Regions from separate parts of the Homo sapiens genome. Here region 2 is linked to region 1. A link means that fine-mapping ties the variant in region 1 to the expression of a gene that starts in the linked region. Tissue or cell type: esophagus mucosa. Region 1 holds a variant in brackets; the other region holds the start of a gene. All regions are shown on one strand. Distances are between the middles of the regions.

The links. PIP is the estimated chance that this variant, and not a neighbour inherited with it, causes the effect.
Region 2: ATG4D starts here. The variant in region 1 is fine-mapped to the expression of ATG4D in esophagus mucosa (GTEx, PIP 0.95).

The regions. Positions count from the first base shown.
Region 1 is chr19:10,515,760-10,523,859 of GRCh38, forward strand. S1PR5 (sphingosine-1-phosphate receptor 5) reads right to left here and starts at 1,688. Exons shown (of 2, transcript NM_030760.5): 1 at 1,639-1,688. RefSeq lists enhancers at 1-165, 3,033-3,595. The variant A/G (reference allele first, on the strand shown) is at 4,940.
Region 2 is chr19:10,540,331-10,548,430 of GRCh38, forward strand. It overlaps ATG4D (autophagy related 4D cysteine peptidase), which reads left to right and starts at 3,574. Exons shown (of 10, transcript NM_032885.6): 1 at 3,574-3,995; 2 at 4,453-4,536; 3 at 4,627-4,800; 4 at 6,509-6,785; 5 at 6,859-6,923. The coding sequence starts at 3,761. RefSeq lists silencers at 3,290-3,339, 3,350-3,689, 3,740-3,919 and an enhancer at 3,965-4,560.

The DNA of each region.
Region 1 (8,100 bases):
TTCTACAAAAATTAGCCGGGACGTGTTGGTGTATGCCTATAGTCCAAGCTACTCAGTGGAGTCCCAGCTGAGGTGAGAGGATCACTTGAGCCCGCGGGGTCAAGGCTGCAGTCAGTGAGCATTGATTGTGCCACTGTACTCCAGCCAGGACAACAGAGCAAGACTTTGTCTCAAACACACACACACAAACACACAAGCAGGGAGTTCCAGAGACGTAACAGTAAACACACAGAACGCACACAAACGCAACACACACAGAAAGAGACACACAAATACAGCGACACACTACAAGGGCAAAACACACAGTCACACACTATCAGGGAAACTAAAAAATACATCATACAGGAACAGAGTGACGCAGGCAGAAAAACACAGCGACCAAAATTCAGTCACACGAATACAGGGTCTCCCACCCAGTGGCACAGGCCACAATTTCACAACCTCCACTCACACTAGCCTGGGGCCCAGTGCACCACACTCCACACTCTTGTCTCACTGCATACAAAGCTTTTTCCTGCCAAAACCCCCTCATCCACCCAAAACCCCATGAGAAAGTTGCTCCTTGGCCAGGCACAGTGGCTTTCGCCTGTAATCCCAGCACTTTGGGAGGCCGAGGTGGGAGTATCACTTGAGCCCAGGAGTTCGACACCAGCTTGGGCAACATACTAAGACTTCATCTCTACAAAAAAATTTAAAAATTAGCCAGGTGTGGTGTTATGCCCCTATAGTCCCAGCTACTCAAGAGACTGAGGCGGGAGGATCACTTGAGCCTGGGAGGCCGAGGCTGCAGTGAGCCATGATCGCACCCCTGCTCTCCAGCCTGGGTGACAAGAGAGAAACTCCGTCTCAAAAAAAAAAAAAAAAAAAAAAGTTGATCCTATTCACTCATTTTACTAAGGCAGAGCCTGAGGACAGGAGAGAGAATCCACAAGAGGCAAACAGACTCTTACAGAGGGGCACACATGTCATTAAACTGTAATAACACTCCTCACCTGCCTCTGTGACCTTATTAATCCCCACTTCCTTTAGTCCTAATTTACAGATGAGAAAACTGAAGCTCAAAAGAAATGCTTCGTATCGAAGCAGGCGCAAAGGTTTCCATGCTCCCACACAAACATCCATGCACAAATAGTCCCCATGCAAGTCCAGATGAGAAAGCCAAGGCCTGGGGAGGGGAATGGATCTCTTTTGCACAAGGCAGGGATGCGGACATCCCAGAGAGCTTCAGTCACACACAGAGAATCAAGGCAGGCAAACATAGACAGGAAGTCGCTGGCTCACCCATGCTGGAGGTGGGGAGCCCAAATACAGGGAGACAGGGTTACACATGCTCTGAGGGGGAGGCCAACCCCATCCGCCCAGCTTGCCCGGCAGCAGGACTGAAGTATGGAAACTTGCAGTGGCCCGGCCAGGAGGGGGTGGCCAGGGGATTCCAGCCACCTTCACCCCGTATCCCAGGTCCTGCACCCAGCTGGGGAGCCCCCAGCTTCCCCCTCCCCAGAGGCCTCCAGGAAAAGTTCGGAGAACTCCCTGCAAGGAGTGGTGCGCCTTTTTAGACCGGGAAAGTGGCCGCCAGGGCGACCCCCTCCGGGTCAGGCCCAGCCCAGCGCCCCCAAAGGTCCAGTGCAGTCCACTCACTCTGCGCCCTGGTCGTGCGCCACCCGCAGTCGCGCTGCCTTGAACCGAGTGAGCGGACGCCGCTCCGGGGGCGGGGCTGGAGCTGGCAGGCGAGGGGGCGGGCCAGCGACGCAAAGGGCCGGCGGTCGCCAGCAGTTGCCCCCTCCCCTTGGGTCCCGGGCACTCAGCCCATGGCTGCCAGCCTGTGCCACTCGCCGCGGCACCGGAGCGCGCCCCGGCGGCGACTGGCACAGGCGAGCCCTCAGCTGCCCCCTCCGGGCCTGGGCTGTCCTCCCAGGGACGCTCCATCGCGGTGGGAGGACTCGGAGAGGCGGGAAAGGGAGGGTTCTGCAGCAGGGCGGTCGCAGCCTGAGCCTCTTCTCCCCAGCGGAGGGGTCTCCTCTGTCCTGGGTGTCCGGGCACTGCGCCCTCCCATTGCCCACCCACCTGTGAACTGAGCTTCCTGGGCTGCACCCCAAGGACGCCCCGTCGATGATTCGGAGGGGTCTTCAGTGGGTTGCTTAGCAGGAGTCTTCAGTGGGGGCCACCTTAGCCTGAGTCCTCTCCCACCAGCAGATAGGTTCCCGCTGCTCCCGGGCACAGGCCCCTCCCAATTTCCCGCTCCCGCCCCCGGCTCAGGGCGAGTGGGGGTGGGGCGGGCCCGGGCAGGATTGTGATGGGAACTTGCCGCTCCTCAGATAAGGAGGGTCTCTCCTGTCCCACCCCCTGGATTCCGTGTTCCCCCGACCGATTCTCTCCCACCCTTATCGCTGACGACAAAGTGATTTACTCATTAATGGTGTTTCTGGGCTGTGTCCTTAGCAGACAGTAAACCCCAGCAATGTAAGAATTTCTTTTTTTTTTTTTTTTTTGAGACAAGATCTTGCTCTGTGGCCCAGAGTGGAGTGCAGTGGCAACATCATAAGTCACTGCAGTCTCGACCTCCGCGGCTCAAGCCATCCTCCCATCTCAGCCGGCTGAACGTAGCTGCTGGGACTCCAGTCGCTTGCAACCATGCCCAGATAATGAATGAGTGTCTCCCTCACTTCCTCTGTATCTCTCTCAGGAGGATCTCAGAGTCTCTCGCCTGCGTGTCTCTTTGTCTCTGCGTGTCTCTTTGCCTCTGCGTGTCTCTTTGTTGCTGTCTGTGATGCTCTCCCACGCCTCTCCCAGGCCACTGCTCCTCCAACGACCAGTCCCGCTGGCCCCGAAACGCCCCCACCCCGACTTCCCAGGAACTTCCAGACGGTCCCAGCTCTTCCACCCTCAGATTCAGGAAGGGAGGCTGGGTCCCGCTGCTGCGACCTTCTCCAGGACCGTGCCCTTTGCCCCTGATGCTTCAGGCCCTGCTGGCCGCGGGTGGGGTGAGGGCGCCCCAGGAGAGATGAGCCAGAGGCTGAGAATAAGTGTGGATCCGGGATACCCTCGTGGGAGGAAACTCAGGGGGCACTCAGGCCGGGTCAGGCCCCCATGTAGCCCCTTGGGGATCCCAGCCCTCCTGCCCCCGCTGTTCCCTCGGTGGGCAGAACCTTTCCTGCCTGCTCTGCTCAAAGACACAGCCAATGGGACCCGCAGGGTGGGACGGTGTTAACCCTTCAGTGCCAGGTTCCCCAGTCCTGTGGACCAAGCCAACTCCAATGGTGCCCACTGGGATGACCCCTGAAGATCTCCCAGCATGGCTGTGGCTGGCACCCAGTAGGTGCTCAATAAATGACCTCCTTCTGTAAAGGGGAAGCCGCGCCCCAGGGTGGGGAGGTGGCTGCTTCACACCTCCCAGGCGCCAATCTCACTTCTCTCGAAAATGGGGCTCTTCCGGCTGCGGGTCCCGGGCTCAGCAACCTGCCTCTCCAGCTGCCTCCCTGAACTTCTTTCCCACGAATTGGGACCCTGGGGACTCAGGCTCCAGGATCTCGACAGATGTTGGGAGTCCCATCCCTAGCTGCCACTCCACACTCCTGGCCACAGTTCTTAAAACTCAGATCACATTTCTTTTCTGCTCCAAACCCTCCCGTGGCTCCCTGTGTTTCTCAGAGTAAGTGATCAAGTCCTCAGTGAGGACCCCGCAAGGACAAGGCCATATGCCGTCCTGATTTGTCTCTTTCTGTTACTTCTGTGCCTCTCTCTGCTCCACTCTGCTTCTGCCTCCCGGGCTCCTCCGAGTTCCACACACACTTCAAGACTTTTGAACTTGGGGGCCAGGTGGCCTGGAGCACCCTTCTCCCCACCCCTTCCCAGCTGGTCAGCTGGTCACCTCCTCAGAGAGACCTTCCCTGATCTGTCCCTCATCTCAAATGGCAGTTGGCATTATCTGAAATCACCTTGCTTTTGCTTTTTTTTTTTTTTTGTAATCTCCCTTTATTGCCCAGGCTGGAGTGCAGTGGTGCGATTTGGGCTCACTGCAAACTTCGCCTCTGCAACCTCCGCCTCCTGGCTTCAAGCAATTCTCCTGCCTCAGCCTCCAGAGTAGCTGGGATTACAGGAATGCACCACCCCGCCCAGCTAATTTTTGTATTTTTAGTAGAGGCGGGGTTTCACCATGTTGGCCAGGCTGGTCTCCAACTCCTGACTTCAGATGAATCGCCCGCCTCCCCCTCCCAAAGTGCTGGGATTACAGGCGTGAGCCACCGTGCCCGGCCACCTTGTTCATTTCATTTATTTATTCATCTTTCCTAATGTGTATCTCTGACCTAGAGCCTCAGCTCCAGGAAGGCAGGTCTGTCCCTCTGCCCAGATTCCTAAAGGTTAAGGGCTCACAGTTTTTTGATTTTTCTTTCTTTTGTGAGACAGCGCCTCACTCTGTCATCCAGGCTGGGGCACAGTGCCGTGATCACAGCTCCCTGCAGCCTCGACTTTCCAGGCTTCAAGCAATCCTCTGCCCAACCTCCAGAGTAGCTGGGACCGTAGGTGCCAGCCACTGCACCTGGCTACTTTTTAAAATTTTTTGTAGAGACAGGGTCTCGCCAGGTTACCTAAGCTGGCCTTGAACTCCTGGACTCAAGCAATTCTTCTGCCTCAGCCTCCCAAAGTGCTGGGATTACAGGAGTGAGACAGGACTCAAGGTCTTGAGGCAGGCAAGTGATACCCACTGTGAGCCTCAGTGGACTTATCTGTAAAATTGAGATAATAGCCAGGTGCAGTGGCTCATGCCTGTAATCCCAGCACTTTGAGAGGCCGAGGTGGGCAGATCACCTGAAGTCAGGAGTTCAAGACCAGACTGGCCAACATGGTGAAACCCCATCTCCACTAAAAATATAAAACTTAGCCGGGCGTGGTGGCGCGCACCTGTAGTCCCAGCTACTCCGGAGGCTGAGGCAGGAGAATC[A/G]CCTGAACCTGGCAGGCGGAAGTTGTAGTGAGTCAAGATCGCGCCACTACACTCCAGCCTGAGCAATGCAGTGAGACTCCATCTCAAAAAAAAAATAAAAATAAAATTGAGATAACCGCACCCACTCCAAGGCTGTTGTTGAAGATGAAATGAACAGTTGGAACAGAGCCAAGGTATACAATGAGAGCTCCACAAATGTCAGTGCAGCTATTATTGGTCACCACTGTATCCCCAAAGAAGAATTAGGGCAATGGGCTCATAAGGAATCAGCCCCAGACATTGCCACCACCCGCCCCCACCCCATACCTCCTCCCACACCCCACAGGCCAAACTGTCTCTTCCCGGGTTCAGGGCACCCCTGGCCTCTATGTTCCTGCTGTGTCTTGCAGCAGCCCTCCCGCCTGAAGCATGCCTAGGCCAGCACACCCGCTGGGCCAGTTCTGCTGCCAGCACCCTCGCCCACAGAGGCAGCTCCACCCAGCGCCCGCTCTTGCAGAGCTGGGTCTGCACCTTCGAGAGGGCAAACTGCCTCCCATGGTACCCTCAGATCCCCTTCACCCACTCCCATTCCCACCCTCCTCACTCCCCCTGCCCTTTTTTTTTTTTTTTTTTTTTTTGAGACGGAGTCTTACTCTGTCACCTGGGCTGGAGTGCAATGGCACTATCTGGGCTCACTGCAACCTCCACCTCCTGGGTTCAAGCAATTCTCCTGCCTCAGCCTCCTGAGTAGTTGGGATTACAGGCACGCGCCACCACACCCGGATAATTTTTGTATTTTTAGTAGAGACATGGTTTCACCATATGGGTCAGGCTTGTCTCGAACTCCTGACCTTGTGTTCCACCTGCCTTGGCCTCACAAAGTGCTAGGATTATAGGCGTGAGCCACCCTGCCCGGTCTTTTTTTTTTTTTTTTTCTTGAGATAGGGTCTGGCTCTGCCACCCAGGCTGGAGTGCAGTGCGCAGTGATCTTGGCTCAGTGCAACCTCCACCCCGAGTTCAAGGGATCCTGCCACTACAGCCTCCCAAGTAGCATGCGCCACCATGCCCAGCTACTTTTTTTGTATTTTTGTAGAGACAGAGTTTCGCCATGTTGCCCAGACTGGTCTCAAACTACTGGGCTCAAGTGATCCTGCTGCCTCGACCTCCCAAAGGGCTGGGATTACAGGCATGAGCCACTGCACCCGGCCCACATTCCCTTTTTCACAGCCCTGAAACTTAAATGTGGCTGCAGGGAGGTGTGAACTGACAACTTTCCCACAGCCAGAGAACAGAGAGGCAGGGTTTGGGGGTCTCAAACGGGAGGCCCGAGGGCCAACTCCAACTCACATGCACAAGGCTTGTTTGTGCAGCTCAGTGAGGTTTCACACTCAAACAGCTATCCGAACTGGACAGAAATGCTGCACTCTAGCCAGTAAATTTGTTTCTCTTAGAAGTACAAGGCAACAGGCTGGGCGCAGTGGCTCACACCTCTAATCCCAGCACTTTAGGAGGCCGAGGGGGGTGGATCACCTGAGATCAGGAGTTCGAGACAAGCCTGACTAACATGGTGAAATCCCAATCTCTACTAAAAATACAAAAATTAGCCGGGCATGGTGGTGCACGCCTGTAATCCCAGCTACTCCGAAGACTGAGGCAGGAGAATTGCTTGAACCGGGGAGGCAGAGGTTGCAGTGAGCCGAGATCGCGCCACTGCACTCCAGCCTGGGTGACAGAGCGAGACTCCGTCTCAAAAAACAAAAAGAAAAAGAAGTACAAGGCAACAATTCTGAAAATGCTTTCATGCTAACATTGAACAAATAAGTACACGTGTTGTAGATATGAATAACCAGGTTTCATACTGTTGGGGAAAAAAAATGACAAATAAGCCAGGTACTGCTGCATTGAGGTTATCAGTATGAGCTCAAGTTTATTTTAATAAATGGATAAGAAAATAAATATAGATATGTGACCAGGTGCTGTGGCTCACACCCATAATCTCAGCACTTTGGGAGGCCAAGGCGGGTGGATCATGAGGTCAGGAGATCGAGACCATCCTGGCCAACATGGTGAAATGCCATCTCTACTAAAAATACAAAAATTAGCTGGGCTTGGTGGCACGTGCCTGTAATCCCAGCTACTCGGAAGCTGAGGCAGGAGAATCGTTTGAACCAGGGAGTCAGAGGTTGCAGTGAGCCGAGATCATGCCACTGTACTCCAGCCTGGCAACAGAGCGAGACTCTGTCTCAAAAAAAAAAAAAAAAGCTGGACGCTATGGCTCACGCCCACAATTCCAGCACTTTGGGAGGTCAAGGTGGGTGGATCACGAGGTCAGGAGTTCGAGACAAGCCTGACCAACAAGGTGAAACCCCGTCTCTACTAAAAATAGAAAAAAATTAGCCAGGCATGGGGGTGCATGCCTGTAATCCCAGCTACTCAGGAGGTTGAGGCAGGAGAATCGCTTGAACCTAGGAGGCAGAGGTTGCAGTAAGCTGAGATCATGCCACTGACTCCAGCCTGGGCAACAGGGTAAGACTCCGTCTCAAAAAAAAAAAAATTTTTTTTTAATTAGAATGTGGTGAAGGTTGCACCACTCTGTAAAATACACTAAAAACCACAGTTGTATATTTCAAGTGTGTGAATTTGATGACATCTGAATTATACCTCAATAAAGCTGTTAAAAATTATATTTGACATTTATCAAGTGGTTAGTTCAAAGCGGGGCAATGTGCTGAACTTTCTACACCATGTTACATTCCCACCCAGAACATCATGTGAGAAGGAAAGGGACTTTTATGTCTCCACTTTATAGGTGTCCCAGATTGAGATCTGAGAGGTTAAGCAAGCTGTCCACAGTCACACAGAAATGGGGTGAACAAACTACAGAGGTCTGGCATTGGAGGCCTGGCAACCCTGGGCTTCCCCTCCGGTCCCCTGCTCCTTACTTGTTCTAAGCTGAGCTCATGGCATACTGCAATGATTTTAGTTTCTGCCACACACACATTCTTTCCAGCCTCCAGGTACCTGGATTTGCTGGTTCAATCCTTCTGCCTGGCTGTTTTCCCTTTTCTTTTTCTTTTTTTTTTTTTTTTTTTGAGGGAGTTTCGCTCTTGCCCAGACTGGAGTGGTGCAATGGCGCAATCTTGGCTCACCGCAACCTCCCTCTGCCTCCCAGGTTCAAGCAA
Region 2 (8,100 bases), 25 kb after region 1:
CCCGGGAGGCAGAGGTTGTGGTGAGCCGAGATTGCCATTGCACTCCAGCCTGGGCAAAAACTCCATCTAAAACAAAAAAACAAAACAAAACAAAAAATAGAAGAGAATCCCACCAAGAACCATGCTGGCACCCTGATCTGGGACTTTCTAGCCTCTAGAACTGTGAGAAGCAAAGGTGTGTTGTTTTAGCCCCCAAGGCTATGGTATTTGTCACAGCAGCCCAAGGGGATAAAGACAGTAAGGTTGTGATAACTACTCCCATGCGGCGGGGAGGGGGAAAAAGGCAGGGAAGAGAAGGAGACCAAGGATGGAGATGGGGGAGAATTTTGAGAGTGGTAATCTTCGTGTAGGGGTGATATTTGAATAAAGACTTGCGGCCGGGCACAGTGTCTCACGTCTGTAATCCCAGTACTTTGGGAGGCTGAGGTGGGTGGATTACTTGAGGTCAGGAGTTCGAGACCAGCCTGGCCAACATGGTGAAACCCCATTTCTACTAAAAATATAAAAATTAGCTGGGTGTGGTGGCACATGCCTGTAATCCCAGCTACTCAGGAGGCAGGAGGATCACTGGTGCCCAGAAGGTCGTGGTTGCAGTGAGTTATGATCGTGCCACTGCACTCCAGCCTGGGCAACAAAGTGAGACCCTGCCAAAAAAAAAAAAAAAGACCTGAAGGAGGTGACGGAGAGCCATGGTAAGAAACGTGGTCTGGGCAGAGGGAACAGCAAGTGCAAAGACTCTGAGGTGGCATTGGCTCTGTTGAGTTTGAGAAAGGGTGCACTTGGCTGGTTGCAGTGGCTCAAGCCTGTAATCCCAGCACTTTGGGAGGCCCAGGCGGGCAGATCACCTGAGGTCAGGAGTTCAAGACCAGCCTGGTCAACATGGTGAAACTCTGTCTCTACTAAAAATATAAAATTAGCCGGGTGTGGTGGCTCACACCTGTAATCCCAGCTACTCCAGAGGCTGAGGCAGGAGAATTGCTTGAACCTGGGAGGCGGAGGTTGCAGTGAGCTGAGATTGTGCCAGTGCACTCCAGCCTGGGCTACAGAGCAAGACTCTGTCTCAAAAAAATAAAATAAAATAAATCAATAAATTAATAAATTAATGAAAGAGAAAGGGGTCAATTGTGATTGAAGGCGACTGGGAGGAGAGGGGAAAAAAGGAAAGTCAGGGAGGTGACTGCCCCTTTTGTGCCTTCTCCTTCTTGGATCACACCCTCATTCAAATCTTTCTTACCTCCTTCAGAGAGCTGAGGACAGAGCCCCGGGGCTGGCCACTAGAGGCCACCCTCTCCATGGCTCACAGGGTCACTGCATTGTCATCATGCAGTTGGCTCTCACTGAGCCCCAACTGTTCCTCAAATACCACTCTAAGCACTTTACATTGGTAAGTTCAGCTCATTCCCATACATCTTTATGAGTTAGACACATTTAAAACTTTTTCCTGGCTGGGTGCAATCGCTCATGCCTGTAATCCCAGCACTTTGGGAGGCCGAGGCTGGCGGATCACCTCAGTCAGGAGTTCGAGACCAGCCTGGCCAACGTGGTGGAATCCTATCTCTACTAAAAATACAAAAATTAGCTGGGCGTGGTGGTGTGCGCCCGTAATCCCAGCTACTCAGGAGGCTGAGGCAGCAGAATTGCTTGAACCTGAGAGGTGGTGGTTGCAGTGAGCCAAGATCGCACTAGTGCACTCCAGCCTGGGCAACAAGAGCGAAACTCCATCTCAAAATAAATACATAAATAAATGAAAATAAAATAAAAAATAAAAATTGTCCCTGGCCAGGTGCAGTGGCTCATGTCTGTCATCCTAGAACTTTGGGAGGCTGAGGCTAATCGTTTCAGCCCAGGAGTTCAAGACTAGCCTGAGCAACACTGGGAGACTCTATCTCTACAGAAAAATTTTTAAAAATTAGCCAGGGGTGGCCAGGCACGGTGGCCCACGCCTGTAATCCCAGCACTTTGGGAGGCCGAGGTGGGCGGATCACGAGGTCAGGAGATCGAGACCATCCTGGCTAACACGATGAAACCTCGTCTCTACTAAAAATACAAAAAATCAGCCAGGCGTGGTGGCGGGCGCCTGTAGTCCCAGCTACTCGGGAGGCTGAGGCAAGAGAATGGTGTGAACCTGGGAGACAGAGCTTGCAGTGAGTCGAGATCGCGCCATTGCACTCCAACCTGGGCAACAGAACGAGACTCCGTCTCAAAAAAAAAAAAAAAAATTAGCCAGGGGTGGTGGCATGTGCCTATAGTCCTAGCTACTCAGGTGGCTGAGGCAGGAGACTTGCTTAAGCCTCGGCAGTTGAGACTGCAGTGAGCCATGATCAGGCCACTGCACTGTAGTCTGGATGACAGAGCAAGACCCTGTCTCAACAACAACAACCAAAATCTGTTTGGGCCTCGCAAGGTTAGAGAAAAAAAATTAAAAAATAAAATAAAATAAAATATTTTCCTGTAGTCTCAGCTACTTGGGAGGCTGAGGCAGGAGGATCACTTGAGCTAAGGAGTTTCAGGCCAGCCTGGGCAACATAGAGAGAACTTGTCTCTATAAAAAGTTAACTGATTACTTTTTAAAACAAAGAGGTTTTTTTTCAGCCTTATTGAGGTATAATAGACATATACAAAACCATGCAAATTTTAAGCGTACAATCTGATGAGTTTTCACACCTGTGAAGCCACTATTACAGTTAAGATACTGAATTTATCCACAGCTCCAAAAAATGTCTTCCTGCCTGAGGTGGTGGCTCACGCCTGTAATCCCAGCATTTGGGAGGCTGAGGCGGGAGGATCTCATGAAGCCAGGAGTTTGAGACCAGCCTAGACAACATAGCGAGACCCCTTATCTACAAATAAAATTTAAAAAATTAACCAGGCATGGTGGCTCCTGTCTGCGGTCTCAGCTACTCTGGAGGCTGAGGTTGGAGGATCAGAGTTGGAGGCTGCAGTGAGCTATGAAAGCGCCACTGCACTCCAGTCTGGACAACAGAGCCAGATGCTGTCTCGACAAAACAAACACTGAAAAAAACTTTCCTGGAGCACTTCATTCATCCCTCCCTCCCGCGCCTGCCTACCCCTGGATTTTTTTTCCCTGAGCATAATTCTCATGAAGATTCGTCTATGTTGTTGCGTGTATTCCAGCCCTATTTTGCACATGAGGAAACTGAGGCACAGAGAGGCGTGGCTTGCCCCGGAGGTCACACTAGTCGATTTGGTCCCAGGCCAGGGCGGGTTCTGGGTCGGCAGCCCGCGCAGGTGCACTCGGGAGGCGGGGCGGGCGCTGCAGGTGCGCAGTCAGTCTCACCTGGGCGCCTGCCAGGAGGTCAGTCCTGGGCCCTGGGGGGCAGGACTAGGGGCGGGGCCAGGGGCAGGGGTTCCCCAGCTCTGCTGCCTCCGATAAGGGCCTGAAGGGGCTGTCGCGCTCCTGGCGGTGTGATAAGGAGGGCGGGGGGAGGCCGCGGGAAGGCGTCGGGGTTTGAGGTCCCCGCCTGGCGACCCGGGATCGGGGCAGGAAAGGCGGCTGGGCGGGGAGAGGGCGGGGCGGGGCGTCTGGCTTGGCCACGCCCACCGTCATCCGGGGTCCTGGCCCGCTAAGATGGCGATGGCTGCGGTAGCAGCGGCGGCGGCTGTTGCCTGGCCCGGTACCCTGGGGACGGGGGCCGAGTAGCGCCTTCCCCGGGCCCCGTGAACCGGCTGCGGGTCGCCCTTGGGGGGCAGCGGCCGCAGCCCCCCACCTGGGCCCTCGGTCCGCCCTCCCGGCGCGTCCATGAACTCAGTGTCGCCGGCCGCCGCGCAGTACCGGAGCAGCAGCCCGGAGGACGCGCGCCGCCGGCCCGAGGCCCGCAGGCCGCGGGGTCCCAGAGGCCCAGACCCCAACGGCCTGGGGCCTTCCGGAGCCAGCGGCCCCGCTCTTGGCTCTCCCGGGGCTGGCCCGAGTGAGCCGGACGAAGTGGACAAGTTCAAGGCCAAGTTCCTGACAGCCTGGAACAACGTCAAGTACGGTGAGGAGGGGGCCCGGAGATCGTGGGGGTGTCGGGGGCCGTTGAGGAAAACCAGACCCCGGTCCTGCCAGTTATCCCACCCTTGTTCCCGTCCTGAGTCACCTGTGGGTCCCCTCCCTGCCCGGCCCAGGGTGGACCTGTGGCAGGTCCAATAGTGTTTTCAAGCCCCGCCCATTCCCCTGTGTGACCTTGGGCAAGATCCTTTGCTTCCTGGCGCCTCCGTTTTTGCCCCTCTCTGTAAAATGGGTACAATAATCAGAACTACCTTCCTTCATCCTGAATTGATGGTGGACACTCCTGTAGCTGTCACTGGGGGCCCCACCTCCGACGGAATCCCCGGAGCCACCCCGGAGATAGGAACTAGGATCGTGCCCATTTCACAGATGGGGGAATGGAAGCGCTGTTGCTGTCATGCAAGTGCTTCATCTCGCTGGGCGCTGCCCCTACGTCTCCCCAGGTTGGGTGGTTAAAAGCCGGACCAGCTTTAGCAAGATCTCCAGCATCCACCTCTGTGGCCGCCGCTACCGTTTCGAGGGCGAGGGTGAGCTGGTGGTTGGGACCAGGGCTGGGGGAGGCCTCTCCACGCCCGCCGGAGTGTCCCTGGTGGCAGCTGACAGACCCGCTCTTGTAGGTGACATACAGCGTTTCCAGCGGGACTTTGTGTCCCGCCTGTGGCTCACATACCGCCGGGACTTCCCGCCCCTTCCTGGGGGCTGCCTGACCTCGGACTGTGGCTGGGGGTGCATGTTACGCAGCGGCCAGATGATGCTGGCACAGGGCCTTCTGCTGCATTTCCTGCCCAGAGGTGAGCCATAGGGGGGAAGGGGTGCACTAGGAGTACAGGGTCAACTGCCATATCAGCAGTATTAGAATTACTTACCAACTAAGAGTTCAAAGTCACGTTAGAATTGTGTGTCAAGTAAGTTTTGGAGAGATGAGAGTTGTTTATAAGAGTTTCAGCCGGGGTTGGAAACGGTGGCTCATGCCTGTAATCCTAGCACTTTGGGAGGCTGAGGCGGATGGATCCCTTGCGGTCAGGAGTTCAAGACCAGCCTGGCCAATATGATGAAACCCCATCTCTACTAAAAATACAAAAATTAGCCGGTTGTGGTGGCACACGCCTGTAATCCCAGCTACTCCCGAGGCTGAGGTGGGAGAATCTCTTGAACCCAGGAGGCGGAGGTTACAGCAAGCCAAGATCGCACCACTGCACTCCAGCCTGGGCAACAGAGGGAGACTCTGTGTCAAAAATAAAAATAAAAAAAAGTTTCACCAGGCACGGTGGCTCATGCCTGTAATCCCAGCACTTTGGGAGGCTGAGGCTGGTGGATCATGAGGTCAGGAGTTCAAGACCAGCCTGGCCAAGATGGTGAAACCCCATCTCTACTAAAAATACAAAAATTAGCTGGGTGTGGTGGCAGGCACCTGTAATTTGGCAAGGTAAAGCAGAGAATTGCTTGAACCGGGGAGGCGGAGGTTGCAGTGAGCCGAGATCCGTGCCACTGCACTCCAGCCTGGGTGGCAGAGCGAGACTCAGTCTCAAAAAAAAAAAAAGAGTTTTGGCTGGGCACTGTGCTGCATGCTTGTAATCCCAGCTACCTGGGAGGCTGAGGTGGGAAGATTGCTCGTGCCCAGGTGTTCAAGTCTGCAGTGAACTATGATCCTGCCACTGCACTCCAACCCGAGTGACAGAATGAGACTCCAACAATAACAGGTCGAGTGTGGTGGCTCATGCCTGTAATCCCAGCACATTAGGAGGCTGAGGCAGGAGGATCGCTTGAGCATAGGCATTCGACACCAGCCTAGGCCACATGACAAGGCTCCTGTCTCTACAAAAAAATTTTAAAAATTAGCTGAGTGTGGTGGCATGTGCCTGTGATCCCAACTACTCAGGAGGCTGAGGCGGGAGAATCTGTTGAGCTCAGGATTTAGAGGCTGTAGTGAGACGTGATTGTGCCACTGCACTCCAGTCTGGATGACAGTGAGATCCTGTCTTTATTTATTTATTTTATTTATTATTATTATTATTTTTTTTTTTGAGACTGAGTCTTCCTCTATCATCCTGGCTGAAGTGCAGTGGAGAGATCTTGGCTCACTGCAACCTCTGCCTCCCAGGTTCAAGCGATTCTCCTGCCTCAGCCTCCTGAGTAGCTGGGATTACAGGTGCCCGCCACCACGCTTGTCTACTTTTTGTATATTTTTTTTTTTATCAGAGAAGGGGTTTCACCATGTTGGCCAGGCTGGTCTCGAACTCCAGGCCTCAAGTGATCCACCTGCCTTGGTCTCCCAAAGTGCTGAGATTACAGGCATGAGCCACCGCGTCTGGCTGAGATCCTGTCTTTAAGTAACAAAAAATAAATAAATAAATAAGGATAAGTATATGTTTCAGGAATATGTAAATTCTGTTGAATTACGGGGTTCAGGAGCATTCGCATTGTGTGCGGTGCATGTGTAGATGGGACCTCTGCCCCCCACACACTAGCACTGTTTGACTATGTGCTCCATTCCACCAGACTGGACATGGGCCGAGGGCATGGGCCTGGGCCCCCCTGAGCTGTCAGGGTCAGCCTCTCCCAGCCGGTACCATGGGCCTGCCCGCTGGATGCCCCCACGCTGGGCCCAGGGTGCCCCTGAGCTGGAGCAGGAACGCCGGCACCGGCAGATTGTGTCCTGGTTCGCCGACCACCCCCGGGCCCCCTTTGGCCTACACCGGCTGGTGGAGCTTGGGCAGAGCTCAGGCAAGAAGGCAGGTGACTGGTATGGGCCATCGCTAGTGGCACACATCCTCAGGTGAGGGCTGCTGCAGGGATCACGGGAGTTGCTGGGTACCCGCAGGCACTCAGGCCTTCCCTCCTGCCCCCAGGAAAGCCGTGGAGAGCTGCTCCGACGTCACCCGCCTGGTGGTGTACGTTTCTCAGGACTGCACAGGTAAGGGGCTGGGAGCCAAGATCACAGGGGCCCCACCCTGAGCCAGACTCTGCCTTACCCGATTCTTAGAGTGCATCTTCCTCAGAGGCTGGAACAAGTTGTGGGGCAGAGGGACACTGGGGAAGGATGCAAGGCCTGTGCAGTGGGAGATAGTCCCTCTTCTCCGTCTCTCCCTCTGGAACAAGAAACTTCAGGGGCTTCTCCTTGAGTGATAGAATAGAGACATAAGGCCAGGTGTGGTGGCACATACTGTAGTCTCAGCTACTTGGGAGGCTGAGGTGGGAGGATTGCTTGAACCCAGGAGTTCGAGGTTACAGTGAGCTGTCATTATGCCATTGCACTCCAGCCTGGGCGACAGAGTAGGATCCTGTCGAAAAAAAAAAAAAAAAAAAAAAGAGGCCAGGCGCAGTGGCTCACGCCTGTAATCCCAGCACTTTGGGAGGCCAAGGTGGGTGGATCACCTGAGGTCAGGTCACTCTGTCACCCAGGCTTCAGTGCAGAGGCACGATCTCGGCTCACTGCAACCTCTGCCTCCTGGGTTCAAGCGATTCTCCTGCCTCAGCCTCTCAAATAGCTGGGATTACAGGCACGCACCACCATACCAGGCTAATTTTTCTATTTTTAGTAGAGATGGGGTTTCACCATGTTGACAAGGCCGGTCTTGAACTCCTGACCTCAGGTGATTCGCCCACTTTGGCCTCCCAAAGTGCTGGGATTACAAGCTTGAGCCACTGTGCCCAGCCCCTGTAATTTTTTTTTTTTTTTTTTTTTTTTTTTTTTTTTTTTTTTTTTTTTGAGACAGAGTCTCACTCTGTCACCCAGGCTGGAGTGCAGTGGCACAGTCTTGGCTCACTGCAACCTCCGCCTCCTGAGTTCGAGTGATTCTCCTGCCTCAGCCTCCCAATAGCTGGGACTACAGGCGCGTGCCATCACGCCCAGCTAATTTTTTTTGTATTTTTAGTAGAGTTGGGGTTTCACTGTCTTTGCCAGTATGGTCTCTCGATCTCCTGACCTCATGATCCCCCCTCCTCGGCCTCCCAAAGTGCTGGGATTACAAGCTGGAGCCACCGTGCCCGGCTACCTCTGTAAATTTTTTATGCAAAATTGTAGGTGTTTGGGAAAAGATTCGATTTTCAGAGAACCTTATCTCCAAAATGGGTCTAATCTACTTCTCTAG